2 linked regions of the Homo sapiens genome follow. The protein of the gene in region 2 purifies or fractionates together with the protein of the main gene of each other region. This does not show direct contact. Each region holds a gene or a part of one and is shown on either strand. Other genes may lie near its edges. The genes, in order: TBC1D20 and HLCS.

What was found.
Region 1: the proteins of HLCS (region 2) and TBC1D20 purify together in Homo sapiens (affinity purification with mass spectrometry; 2 studies listed by BioGRID and IntAct, with this or other methods). This does not show direct contact.

Annotation. Positions count from the first base shown.
Region 1 is NC_000020.11:438,529-445,619, forward strand, and holds part of TBC1D20 (TBC1 domain family member 20), read right to left. Parts: intron 6,603-7,091; coding exon 6,522-6,602; intron 3,516-6,521; coding exon 3,329-3,515; intron 3,162-3,328; coding exon 3,060-3,161; intron 1,862-3,059; coding exon 1,720-1,861; intron 768-1,719; coding exon 580-767; intron 314-579; coding exon 58-313; 3' UTR 1-57. UniProt on the Homo sapiens protein: GTPase-activating protein (GAP) specific for Rab1 and Rab2 small GTPase families for which it can accelerate the intrinsic GTP hydrolysis rate by more than five orders of magnitude. Also shows GAP activity for RAB18 GTPase.
Region 2 is NC_000021.9:36,748,035-36,753,669, reverse strand, and holds the end of HLCS (biotin--protein ligase), read left to right. Parts: 3' UTR 1-5,044; downstream 5,045-5,635. Other genes in the region: SIM2 (single-minded homolog 2 long isoform), read right to left, coding at 5,578-5,635. UniProt on the Homo sapiens protein: Biotin--protein ligase catalyzing the biotinylation of the 4 biotin-dependent carboxylases acetyl-CoA-carboxylase, pyruvate carboxylase, propionyl-CoA carboxylase, and methylcrotonyl-CoA carboxylase.

The sequences.
Region 1 (7,091 bases), on a different chromosome or scaffold from region 2:
CCTTCCATGGAAGGGTGAGACCTTAATGTGATGTAAGAGGAAGGTCTTCTCTGGCTTTCAGGGAAACAGCTGCAGCTGAAACTTAGGGGCCCATTCCAGGGCACTTTTCACCACAGCCAGTGCAGCCGCTCCAAGTGCCACTGTCAGCCCCATCACTGCCAATTTCACAAAGCGGTTGGTCCTTGGCTTGGTCAGGACATCTTTTGTTCGATCTTCAGGCCGCAGAAGTCCCCGAAACCGCTGCCGCAGCACCATATCAGGCCTCTGCTGGGCTGATGCCAGCTCAAAGTCTTTGAAAGTAGAGGCTGCCGTCCTGCAGGGGAAAGAGACGGAAGGAAGGAAGTGGTATGAAAGAGGAGGAGGAAAGCAAAACTACACCACATAGGCTGCGGGCAGAGCCTTTCATTGCTGGGAAAGCTCTTTATGATAAAGACCCATATGTCTACAGTGGGGATTCCACTGGCCTAAGCTCAGATCTCTGGAAACATGCCCCAACCCTATCCCACCAGACACAAACCTTCCCTCGCTTCTGCTCATTTACAGCCACCCCCATTCAACCAGTGTCCCAGCCTTGCTCACCTCTCAGCTTGCTGTTGGGCAGCGGCCTCCCGAGCAAGTTCGGATGGGGGAAACTGAACAAAAAGGTCTCCTGCTCTGCTGATCAGTGTCTCATAGGGCAAGTCCTGAGGGATCTGGGACAACAGGTGGTGGACCGAGGCCATGTCACAGTCACAGTCCAGGACTTCCTGCTCGCGATACAACACAATCTGTGGGGAGGTAGTAAAGCCTTGCAGTCAGAGGCCAGACACACAGGGCCTGGGCCACCTGCACTCCATTATCCTTGCAGATGAATTTAAACTGGTAACAGACAGGACTCAGCCCAAATGTTGAGCAAACTCTTGTATCCATCAAGGAAGTAATAACATATATACGCTCAGTGCTACTCCTACTCTCTGGCCCTTCCTGCAAACTTCCACCACATGACATGAAAGGCTGACCAGTTACAATCTAAGTCCTTCGGGCATGCTGGGCTGCTCAGGTGTCCCTTTAAGTCTTGAAAGAAATGAAGGAGATTCTTTTAGGAGAAAGTAGGAGAATTATTGGGAGATTCCTGGAGCTCCAGCATAGAAGAAATGGTTCAAAACAGTAGAAAGAACAGTCTTGCTCCCTTTAAGCATCTTCCTTCTGACTGTTGGTCCACAAATCCACAGATGCTCAAGGGACCAGTGGTCATTGAAGGACTTCCCTGAATTCCCATCTCCACCCCATCCCTCAAGACCCTTCTACTAACTGAAGCCCCTACCCTCCACCGCAAGCCGCCTCCCTTGTCTGTCATGACACCAGATCTCTTCTTTTCTTAAATCTGGAGTTGACAGCTTACGCTACTATTTCCCTAATTGTGTTCATCAGCTGAACATATATTCCAGACAATGTCAACAGGAACCCTGACAATTCACAATGCAGATTAGCATTTTAAAGGTTCAGAAGTGTCATGCAGCAAAAAAAATCTGATTTTGTTTATACCCAGCATTTCCCAACTTACTATTTTTTGTGTGTGACACCCCCATTAATACTGCACAGAATGGTGTCCAGGGACACCAGCCTGGGAAGTGCTGTCTTTTGCATCTTTCCATAATCCCCAGGTTTCCCTTCAGGGAAAATGACCACAGTGGGATGGGTGATGGTGAACCCAGCTGCTGGCTCGTGGCCTGTACCTACCACGGCTGCAAAGTAAATCGGCATCAGTGGGTGGCAGGCCAGGAAGAAGTCATATAACCGCACGACGTGCCTGAAGTCAGACAGGACATGCCCAAACCAGGTGATGAGCCAGCTGAGGGCAAAGATGGTCCCTACCTCAGCACTAGAAACAAAGGAAAGGCAGGTGTCAGGTCCTGTGGGCCATCCCTTCCCTCTCTCTGGGCCTTATAGCGCTGGTGAGAAGGAAGCATTTAGGAATAAGATTTCTGGAAAATTCAGTTACCTAGGAATTCAGCATCTTCTCCTTACAAAATATTTAATACAAAGTCTTTAAGGTGTACCACAACACTAACACCACAACAGGGTCCTGGCTGCTTTATCTCACTGGGTGCTCGCCTACTGGCCAACAAATGTCAACTACAGGAACGAGAAGCAGTTGTTTTCAGAGAACTACGCCATGATTCTCCTTCTGACTAAGTCTTACCCTTCTGGGGGGCACAGGTACATATTCCCAAGCCTGAAAACATGACTGCATTAATTTTTCTGTTAACATGAGACAACTGAAATATCTTAAGATGTAGCTGCCAGACACGGTGAGTCACGCCTATAATCTCAGCACTTTGGGAGGCCAAAGCGGGCGGATCACCTGACATCGGGAGCTCGAGACCAGCCTGACCAACATGGAGAAACCCTGTCTCTACTAAAAATACAAAATTAGCCGAGCGTGGTGGCGCATGCCTGTAATCCCAGCTACTTGAGGCTGAGGCAGAAGAATCGCTTGAACCCGGAAGATAGAGGTTGCAGTGAGCCAAGATCATGCCATTGCACTCCAGCCTGGGCAACAAGAGAAAATACTCCATCTCAAAAAAAAAGAAGGCATAGCCATTACCTTTTAAAAAATTTTAAAAAAAGAGGCATTGGCCAAGAACACATTTCCAACTAAACAGAGAAGAAACAAAACATCACATGGGATTTGCAAAAAAATATTTCTTCTCTTTGGTACTTGGGAAATAAAACAACCCATTGTTGGCCTTCCCCTTCTCGCCACTGGATCCCACAGGACTTTGTGTTTCTCTTGTGGCAATAACCTCAACATCTTACCTTGGCATACATACCTTATCCACCTCTCCCCACTAGATGTAAACTCAAGGGATGGGCTATGTCCCCCAAAGAGCACAGTCCCCAAAAATGCTCCAAGAACTGAATTACCCAGATTGCTGGTGACTGGAACAACTGGGGAGAACTTAACAAATCCACCCAAGACAATGAGGAAACTGCGCTCGGCTTGTGAGGAGTGTTTCAGGTGTGGGGGGGTGTGGGCGTGTGTATGCATGCACACAGAAATGCAGACACATATGTACCTCTGCATGAAGTCATGGAGCTCTGGATTCACCTGGTCAATGATGGGCATCAGATAGTTTAATATATGCTTGGTGTTGTCCATTGTTGGATCCATAAAATCCCTGGAGGGAGACAATTCAATAAGCCTGGTTACCAAACACTTAGATCAGGGCTCAGGGTGGCGAGGGCTCAAACTCCTAAAAAAGCTGACCAGAAAACAGGCCAGTGAGTTATCCCCAGGACGGCTGAGGAGTGATGCCCGTCGTCTTGTGTTCCTCTCTACTGGTACCTGAGGTGGTGGGTAGATAATTTTTCTACCAGGGATGTTGCCAGCCTCTCGCCTACCACCAGCAGAAATGTGACCACAATGTCATGGTAGCCCTGGTAGTAGTGCAGCTGAGGGTTGCGCTCCAAGATGAGGAGGATGATGTCAATCAGTTCTTCCTGGAGCCCTTCTCTCTGTTCCTCTGGCATGCCTGGGGACAGGAACAGAGATGCCTTTGAACATACCAAGCAGCCTAGTTAACAAGGAGGTCGAAGAAGGCCAGCAATGAATTTTCAGAGAAAAAAGGAAAATGAATTACAAATAATTTGGCAACGCATATCAAGATCCACTGTTGATACCACCTGGCATACAGGAAAAGGCAGCTGCTAGCTTTCCAGTAGGGGAAGCTGCAGATGCCACCCTAACCAAGTTGCTGCAGTTAATACTGCTGGGACACAGTATTTAACTGCAGAATTTCAACTATGGGAGCCACAGACGGCCTCTGCCTCCCGAGGTGATGCACTGACAGAGCTCAGCATCATGTCTGCAGGATTTCTATCAACAGCGCACAGACCTCAATCTCACAATGAAGAAATACCCAATATCCCCAAAGGAAGAGAAATTTAACTCTCATACAATACAAAGGAACTGTTCCAGATTAAAAATGGCTAAAGATATAGGACAACAGCATGAGAAACGCATAAATCTATATTTCCTTTTCCAGTGAAGCACATTACTCGAAGAAATGGTGAAATGTGAATAAAATCTGTGGATTAATTAGTTAACTATTTTTCAGTGTTGTTACTGATGTTGCTCAGTGTACTGTGATTACATGAGAGCCTTATATTTAGGAAATATGTCCTGAAACACTTGGGGTAAAAAGATGTCATGTTTGCAACTTACTCTTAAATAGTTCAGAGAAAAAGTGTATGTCTATGTGTAAAGCGAAGGAAAGACAGAAAGCAGCTAAAAAAGCAAATGTAGGCCAGGCGCGGTGGCTCACGCCTGTAATCCCAGCACTTTGGGAGGCAGAGGCAGGTGGATCACGAGGTCAGGAGATCGAGACCATCCTGGCTAATATGGTGAAAAACCCCGTCTCTAATAAAAAATACAAAAAATTAGCTGGGCGTGGTGGCAGGCGCCTGTAGTCCCAGCTACTTGGGAGGCTGAGGCAGGAGAATGGCATGAACCCAGGAACCAGAGCTTGCAGTGAGCTGAGATCGTGCCACTGCACTGCAGCCCGGGCGAGAGAGCAAGACTCCGTCTCCAAGAAAAAAAAAGCAAATGTAGTAAAATGTGAAAACAAAAGGAAATCTGGGTAAAAGGTATCTGGGGAATTCTTTGTCCTATTTTTACAACCTTTCAGTAAGTATGAAATTATATAAAAATAAAAAAATTTTAAAGTTACACGGTCCCCTTTAAACCAAAGCAAACGTTACAGGAAAAACTGATCCTCTTGATCCAAAGATGTATTATAGCTGGAAATAGGGAAGCCTGTCTCAGGAGTTCTTTCAGGGAGTTCTTTTACTGCTGGAGCTAGTGCTGCCAGCAGTAAAAATGCCTTGGCCTTATGAGCCAGGTTAGAAGAATGGCACATGCACAGCTTCTCCACACCATTAGCTTTCAGTTACAAACACATACTCAGAGAGAGAAAGCAGCTAATGTAAGGGCCCAAACTAAACCGGACAAAGGATTGCAGGTAAGAGCAAAACTCACCTCTTGCCCATATTTACCCCACCCCTTCTCAAATAAAAAGCATACCCTAAAAGATAAATAAGGAAACGAAGCAAACCCAGGGCTGCTGATAGGTGAAGCAGTGAAAGGAGTGAGAGTAAAAATTAAACCCTGTGTGAATTTTCAGCAGAAAAGCAGTGAGCCAAGCCCAGAAGACCATGAATGGAAAAAGAATATGAAGCCACACTGTAAGTTCAGCCTACAGAAAGCGTATCACAGATATTACATCAATGGAAGAGGAATAAAGGGTTCAGAGGGAAAACAGGTTACCTAGGAAAAAATGGGGGTGGCTCTTGCCTGTAATCCCAGCACTTTGGGAGGCTGAGGTACGTGCATCACCTGAGGTCAGGAGTTCGAGAGCAGCCTGGCCAACATGGTGAAACCCCATCTCTATTAAAAACACACACACACAAAATTAGCTGGGCGTGGTGGCGGGCACCTGTAATCCCAGCTACTTGGGAGGCTGAGGCAGGAGAACTGCCTGAACCTGGGAGGCGGAGGTTGTAGTGAGCTGAGACAGTGCCATTGCACTCCAGCCTGCAACAAGAGTGAAACTCTGTCTTTAAAAAAAAAAAAAAAAGGGAGGCATCTGTCCTATATGATCTCATCCAAACCAGCAGGCTAGGAAAAGGGAATGGACCGTGGGCATGTGCTTTTATCAAAACCACGCTGGCAGGCTACTGCTACCTGGGTATTGCAAGAATCTGTCCAGGGAGCAAGAATGCCAGCAGGAAAGCAGCCCCTTCAACAACAAAAGCCAGGCCAGAGCACAGTGCAGAAGAGGGAGGCAGCCAGCTTAGAGGCTCCTGTTCCCTTTAGCAATTCTCCTCTCTTCATGACCTAAAGGTGGAGTTGCCAGAGGAAGAAAAATAGGTCATCCATGTGAGGTTTGTTGCCCAGTTCCCTTCACTGTGAAAATTGAGACAACGGTCCTTCTTTTCTTTCTTCCTGAAATAAAGAGGTAATTTTAGGAATACATTCTTTTTTGTTTGTTTGTTTTGTTTTTATTTATTTATTTTTTTATCTATTGCTGCTTAATTTGTTAATTAAGGAATATACTCTTACACAAACAGGGAATGGCCTCTCTTCCCTCTAAGGAATCTTACATATGTATGCGCAAGGTACCATCGTTTTTAAACCTAATTAAGATATTACTCATTCTTGTTGGTGCCCAATTCCACACCAATCTGCTCTTTAATGCCAGACTGATGGCTCTAACAATCCTTATTAACTCCTTTTTGTGGCTTCAAGGAAAAACAAAAACCTCTTCTCTCATTCACCACCTCTAGGCCAGGAGAAATTATTTTTGGTTCAGGCTTTCACAGTGGGGGTCTGAAAGTGACCAGTCAAGAAAAGGATGACTCAGCAAAAGGAGAGCTCTGAAGGTCCCTGAGGCGGCAGGGTCCAGCATATTAGGTCACATGGTATGACCTGGAACAGATACAGTCTTTCCAAATGTGGCAGGACCGGGAGAGCTTCTCACCAGGAGGGAACCGCCGCAATGACCGCCGGACGTCCAGCAACACTTGTTGGTAGTCCTTGCTCATCTGCCGTAGGTTCTTCCCTATTGAAGGAAAAGGCACGTTATTGCAGGAATGCCTGAGAAGCCAGACCAGAAGCAAAACATTCTGGGATGACACAAAAGGCCTAGAGGGCACATGTCAGCTTCTCCTGAAGAGGATGATATGACTCAAGATACAACATTTGGCAGGGAATCCCTAGTTTGGTTCCAAACATTATGTTTCCTGCAAGTCACAATGACCCTAAGAGAAGGGAGCACAGACTGCCCAGGAGACAATACAGCAGGGTGGGAAGGAGAGCAAAGACGTAAGGAGGCCAGGCGCCTCGTGCAGAAGGCCACTGTGCATCACTGGGAACTGCTCTGAATTTCAAAGTCCACAGCTACAAAATGAGGATATTCCAAGGATCAAATAAAATCATGAATGTGGGAACAACAGACCACTGAAAAAAACCCTAACGCCTATAAAGTTGTGGGAGCACTAAGCTGTTTAGAAAGGTATATTGAGACTCACATAAAGAACCACCTAACAAC
Region 2 (5,635 bases):
TGCCTGTAGAGATAGAGCTAGCTGGTGTGGTTGCAGTGACCTTGTAGAGGAAATCAGTTCATTACTTTGACATCATTCAGTGAGCTCTCCTTTCCTAAGGAAGTTTAAATGTCCTTAGTTAGGGACTGACTTTCTTAAGTAAGTTTAAATTTACTACATATTGTGAAGAGACAGGATCAAGTTCAGAATCCTTAAATGTCTGATTAGGCATCACTTGGATGAGGAGGTGGGCGATTTGGCTCTGACAGCTGGAGATGAAGGCACACTCATACCACATACAAGGGAGGATTTGGAGCTTTTAAGCCAGTTTCAGATTTACTCTGAAATGTGGAGCATTCCTGCAAGACTGTGCAGCTCACGGAATATAGAAGACATGGCATTTTACTCAGAAGTCATAAGTTTTTGCCCCCCTCATTTACCTCGTATTACCAAGAAAGAAAATGTTATCGATACTAAACACCATCAGTTCAGAGGGAGGATGTGTGTGTGTGCCCGCATATGTGTGTGCGTGCGTGTGTGCGCACATAGCTTTAAAAGAAGACATTCAAAATTTGATGTGCTACAAGCCTCATGAAAGAACAAAAGAAATGAAGCCTTTTGATATGCATTCGCTATTCCCAGATGTACGCCATGCCTTTTCCATGTCCCTCCTATCTCTGTTGAACTTATGAATCATACTCATTACTTTTCAGCTTTTTAAAAGGCCAATTTTTGTCCAGTTTTCTCTCTTCCAGTCCCAGCTGAAATTAGTGGAAAGAAAGTTTGATGGAGCTTTCAGCTTTGAACAAAATCCCTTCATTGTAAACTAGCACCATCTTTATCCAGGTCTTACCCAGTCAGGCTAATTCCAGAAACTTGTGGTTTTTAGTATAGTCTGTCTACCTTTAGCCAGGCACAGGACAGCCCTATGAAAAAATACCCAATATATATTTTTTGGAAATGAAACATTAAAAGAACTTAAAAAGTAATTTTTGGAAATGAGGCTTCAATTAGAATTATTTTTCTCAAAAAACAAACAAACAAAAAACACAAAAAAAACCACTCTTCTCCAAATGCCCAAGCCTTCTTTCAAAATTAGTTAGAAACTTAAGTAAAATACAAGTCCACACCATCCCCAAATTACAAAATGGACTTACCCTTGAGAGGGCATCTGCAGAATATCATCAGGGACAAAGATCTCGAGGCTAACGATGTAGGTTTCATTTCTCAGACTTTGTAATATAAGGCAAGCCCTCTCTCAGAGCTGCCATCATCACTTTTTGAATTTCTTTGGGGGTTATTTAATGAAAAACATGCTATGTTTTGTTTTAAGCTGAAGTCCTATTCTGGACACTCTGCTTTGGGAAAAAATGTTATCATTTAATTTCCTTTCTGCAAATTAAAACTAATGAAGTGTGGCCTTGTCAAAGGCTATGGAGATGTTCCGGGCATACTGCTGTGCTCTGTGCTTTCCAGCAGGCGCTCCTCCCTCACGCAGGAGACTCAGTTGTCCTGAGAGAGATGAAGCAGCCTTGAAGCAGATGCTGCGTTTTCCATAAACCTGATTTTGCCTCACATGAACCAAAGACTCTCAAAACTCCGCTTCTATAGAATTAGCTGAATAAAGGCATTTTACTGATAGCTGTTCGTGTTAGCGAAACCTGTCTACCTGCTATAGCACACTCTCCGATTTGGGCCATTTATGCACCCCGCAACCTGGGATCTCAAGGAGCTTTAAAGTCTTAATGGGAACTTGGCATTTTCCTGATGATCTTTAAAATGTGGTCACTAAACTCAGGATTGGCGTGTGCTTTTAGAACACTGGAGTAGCCCTTGTTTTAGAGGCTGTGCATTGAGTATCGACCGTATTTTGTAAAAGGCAAGATATCCTCCCTTCCAGGCTGGTAACGGGTTTCAAGGGGACTCTTGAGGAAGTGCCCCCTAAAATAGAACACAGCAATAACTGGGCTTCCTGTCCCCACCCCCACCCCAGCAGTGCTCTCTGGCACTGGGAACTCTGCTAGGGAGTGGTGGAAGTAGGAAGGATTTGTGTGCAAAGGAAAATCGTGGTTGAGTTTCACTGCAGCAGGCTGACGTTGCCTGATGTGAGAGCAAGTGGCCGACTGGGGTGCGGGTGCACAGGTCGGGGGAGCACAGGCCACAGAGCGCAGCCTCTGGGGGTCCCCCAAGGCACAGCATATACAGCATGGTCGCCCCTTGCCCTGGAGTCTGGGAACAAAGAGAGGAGCCAGCCTCCCCGCACTGCTTCAGATGGAAAAGGGAGGCAGGGTGGGCTTCCGTTCTCCAGATCTGTTTGCTCTTAACAGGCAGAACATGGGAGAATCCTTATTCCTGGTTAATCACTATGCATATTTGAAATAAAAGAAAGCGTAAGCCTCTGCAATTTTAACTTCTCAAAGGATGTCTCTGAAAAGAATCACTTTAAACCAATGCCTATAAAAAGCAAGTCTACCAAAATAAACTAAGACTTTCTATGTGGTTTGGGCTCCCTCTTATTTTTACAAGTTTCATTTTTAAAAGTAGGCAACTACTTTGGGTTACAGTATTTTTATTCATATTTAAACATTTTTACAAAATAAATAAAGTGTTTTACATAGTAAGGAATATGTACGTATTTCCAAGTATTAAGAAGCCAAGTGTTTTTTTTTTTGACGTATTATTGACAAATGTATTCAGCGCCATACACAAGAGAAATATTATTACTCCAAAGAACGAAAGTTAACAAAACTCCAAAGCAAAAACCCTTTTAATGGAGGTGAGAAATAAATTTAATGTAACAACAGCTAGATTGTTTTTAGGATTTTTCTTTTCTTTTGTGGAAACTTCTTGACTTGACTTTTCATCTGAACAGTTTTTCCCCCCAAGATTTTAATCTTATATGTCATACTTAAGTTTAGGAACAGCTTGAATAATTAGCATTCTAGATAACACAAGGGCCATGATTCACTAAAATTCCAAGCTACTGTAATTTTATGGCATTTATTTGCAAATGTTCTTTGTATCTCATTTTATCTGTAGCAGTCCCCACTAGTCTACCTTAACCATCTTATAGCTCTGGTAAATTAAAACTTACGTAGACTTTATACAAGATCCATTGGCCGTATTAAACCTCCCCCACTCTTAGGGCTTAGGGCGGAAGGGACGAAGGCAGGGCTGATAGGACTTTTAAAAGGATAAAAGGAGTGGGGGCAAGGGAGGCGGAAAATACAGGCTCTTGCAGATACCCTCCGCGCTGCCCTCCACACCCAGCCCACTGCTCTACAAAGGTATGAATGGAATGGCTTTTCTAGAAAAGGGCTTCCAAGAACATAAAGGAATTCCTTTCCCTGGGAGGCCCCGTGGAGGGCTGAGCCAGCCTTGAATTGGGCTTATTTCTCAAATCCATTTGATCTGGCATTTTTGTCAACATGGTACATGTTAGGGCCTACGATGATTTTTTTTTCTTTTTTGTAAAAGAGAGGCATATGTATTAAAATGCTTCCTCTTCCCCTGCCGGAGCCTCACAGAAGTCAAGAAACGCTATCCCCAGCTTAAATGTGCAGACTCTTCAAGATGGAGGTCACAATATTAGGTTGCCACAGTAACAGCTCTGCTGACTTCACACTCAGCCCTGGCCGTCCTGAAGCCAGCTCGTGTAAGAATCTTCCTTCATGTTCTAGGTTATGAAAACGAAGTTTGTTTAGACAAGGACGTTTTCACTAGTACACATTTTCAAGTACATACACACTCTGTTACGCCTGTCCACGTTGTCACTTGTAAATCTATGATAGGGTCTTTTTTCTCAACAGTAACCTTTGTTATTGAACTGCTCCGATAGCCTTGATTTATTTTTACTAAATACAGCCCCAAAAGTTAATAACAAGGTAGACACAAAAGCATTTTGCAGTACTTTATTGAAAAATGTCGGTGGTATCTCCTAGTAATCAAACCTACACCTTTCAAGAATCACGGTTTAATTACAAGACTCATGAACATAAAAAAATAATACCCTCGGCTTATTTCCTGTGCACACACTCACAAGGAGCTGTGAATGAGGTATAGCTGAGTGCGTGGAGAGGCGGGCACATCCCTTCCTACCATCCAGCCCCTTCGCTGCATGACCCACGGTCCTAAATTTGCAAATTGTGACTCTTACCATGAGGCCCACTGACAGACACCCTGTAGGGATTGTGTCAGGTCCTCACTAAGTGACACAGGGTTGGCAAAAAAAAAAAAAAAAAAGTCAGTTCACATTTTGAGAGCAGTTGGTGTAGGTGCACTTGATTTTAGAACGATGAGTTTAAAACATTTGTGAAAACCTCTTTCCATTCAGAAAGGTGGAAAAAGTTTCCTAAAATAAACCATTTTGATAAAGCAGCAAAATGCTGCAGTGTTGATAGTGTGAAGAAAATTGAAGGACGGCGGTTCAATGCATTGTGCAGTTCAGAGCCATGACAGGATTTTTCCATGTTGAGATCTTTAAGCAAAACCCATAAAAAGTAAAAATTAATGGAAGCTCATTTTTTAAACACTGCTGGTGCTTTATGAAAGGATTTCTGTTTACCTGTTGCACACGTAACATGTTCTTACGAAGTTTTCTCGCTGTGTAGAAAATGCTTAAAATGTCTACATCATTTTCATTACACCCCCTTAAGCATGTTTTTCCTTCACAAGGTGCAGTCCATTGACAGTGTTCCGTATTGCACGTGCAATTTAACTTTATTAGCACTATTTGTAGCAAACACGAGCCTAGTGAATTACAGATCTGTGTGGGCCAGAGGGATTTTGCCACGTAATAATGAAGCTTGACAGGGTCATTCTCATAAACTGTCTGGCTACATATATATTTTTGCATTTAATGCCTATTCAATATATTCTGAAGGTGCTACTCTTGGTGTTATCAAGAGTTCATAGGGGTTAGGGGGAAGTAAGAGCTTGTTAATGTATTTGGGAAGCACACCTATGTTCACAGACACAAAATGGAATTGCATGGTCACCCCCTTAGTCTTGGTTTGTTGGCTTTTTGTATTGAAGAAAGGGTTAAATAAAAACAAAAATAATGAGACTCTTGAATGACTTTTAAAGACAGTGGAGTTGTGTATTCATGGGACTTACAATCATCACTTCTGCCTTCACCTAAGCATCTAAAAGGGCTCGTGACACAGGCGTCCCCTCCCAGGTCTGCCGTCCACTTGGAAGAGCGGACTGTGGTAGGGTGGGTTTTCCCTCCTGAAAGTGGAGGATATTTGCGGAGTGAAACCGCTTCAATCCCCCAGCGGGACTGTTGTGGAACGTTGGGGACAAGGCAAGACGCGTGAAGCCCGATTTCAAGGTGAGGAAACCAAGCCCCCAGCAACTGGGTCGCACCGGCCCTCGCAGGACAGAGGCGGGCGGTCACCTGCCCGGACCCGGGCGCTCCTCGGCCCTCGGCACCGGCGCGCGGGGCCTCCGCGGTGGAAATCCGCAAGTCGGCGGCGGGGTCCAATTCAAACAGCTGTCTCTGCATAAATTAATGTAGGTCGTGCGCATTTGCCGGGCTCGGTGGCGCCGCAGCCCCGGGAGGCCGGGTCCAGGCTCCTGGCGCGGGCGGCCAGCGGGTCACCTCCCGTTGGTGATGATGACCGAGGCGCCCAGGTAGTGCGGCAGGGGCGCGCCG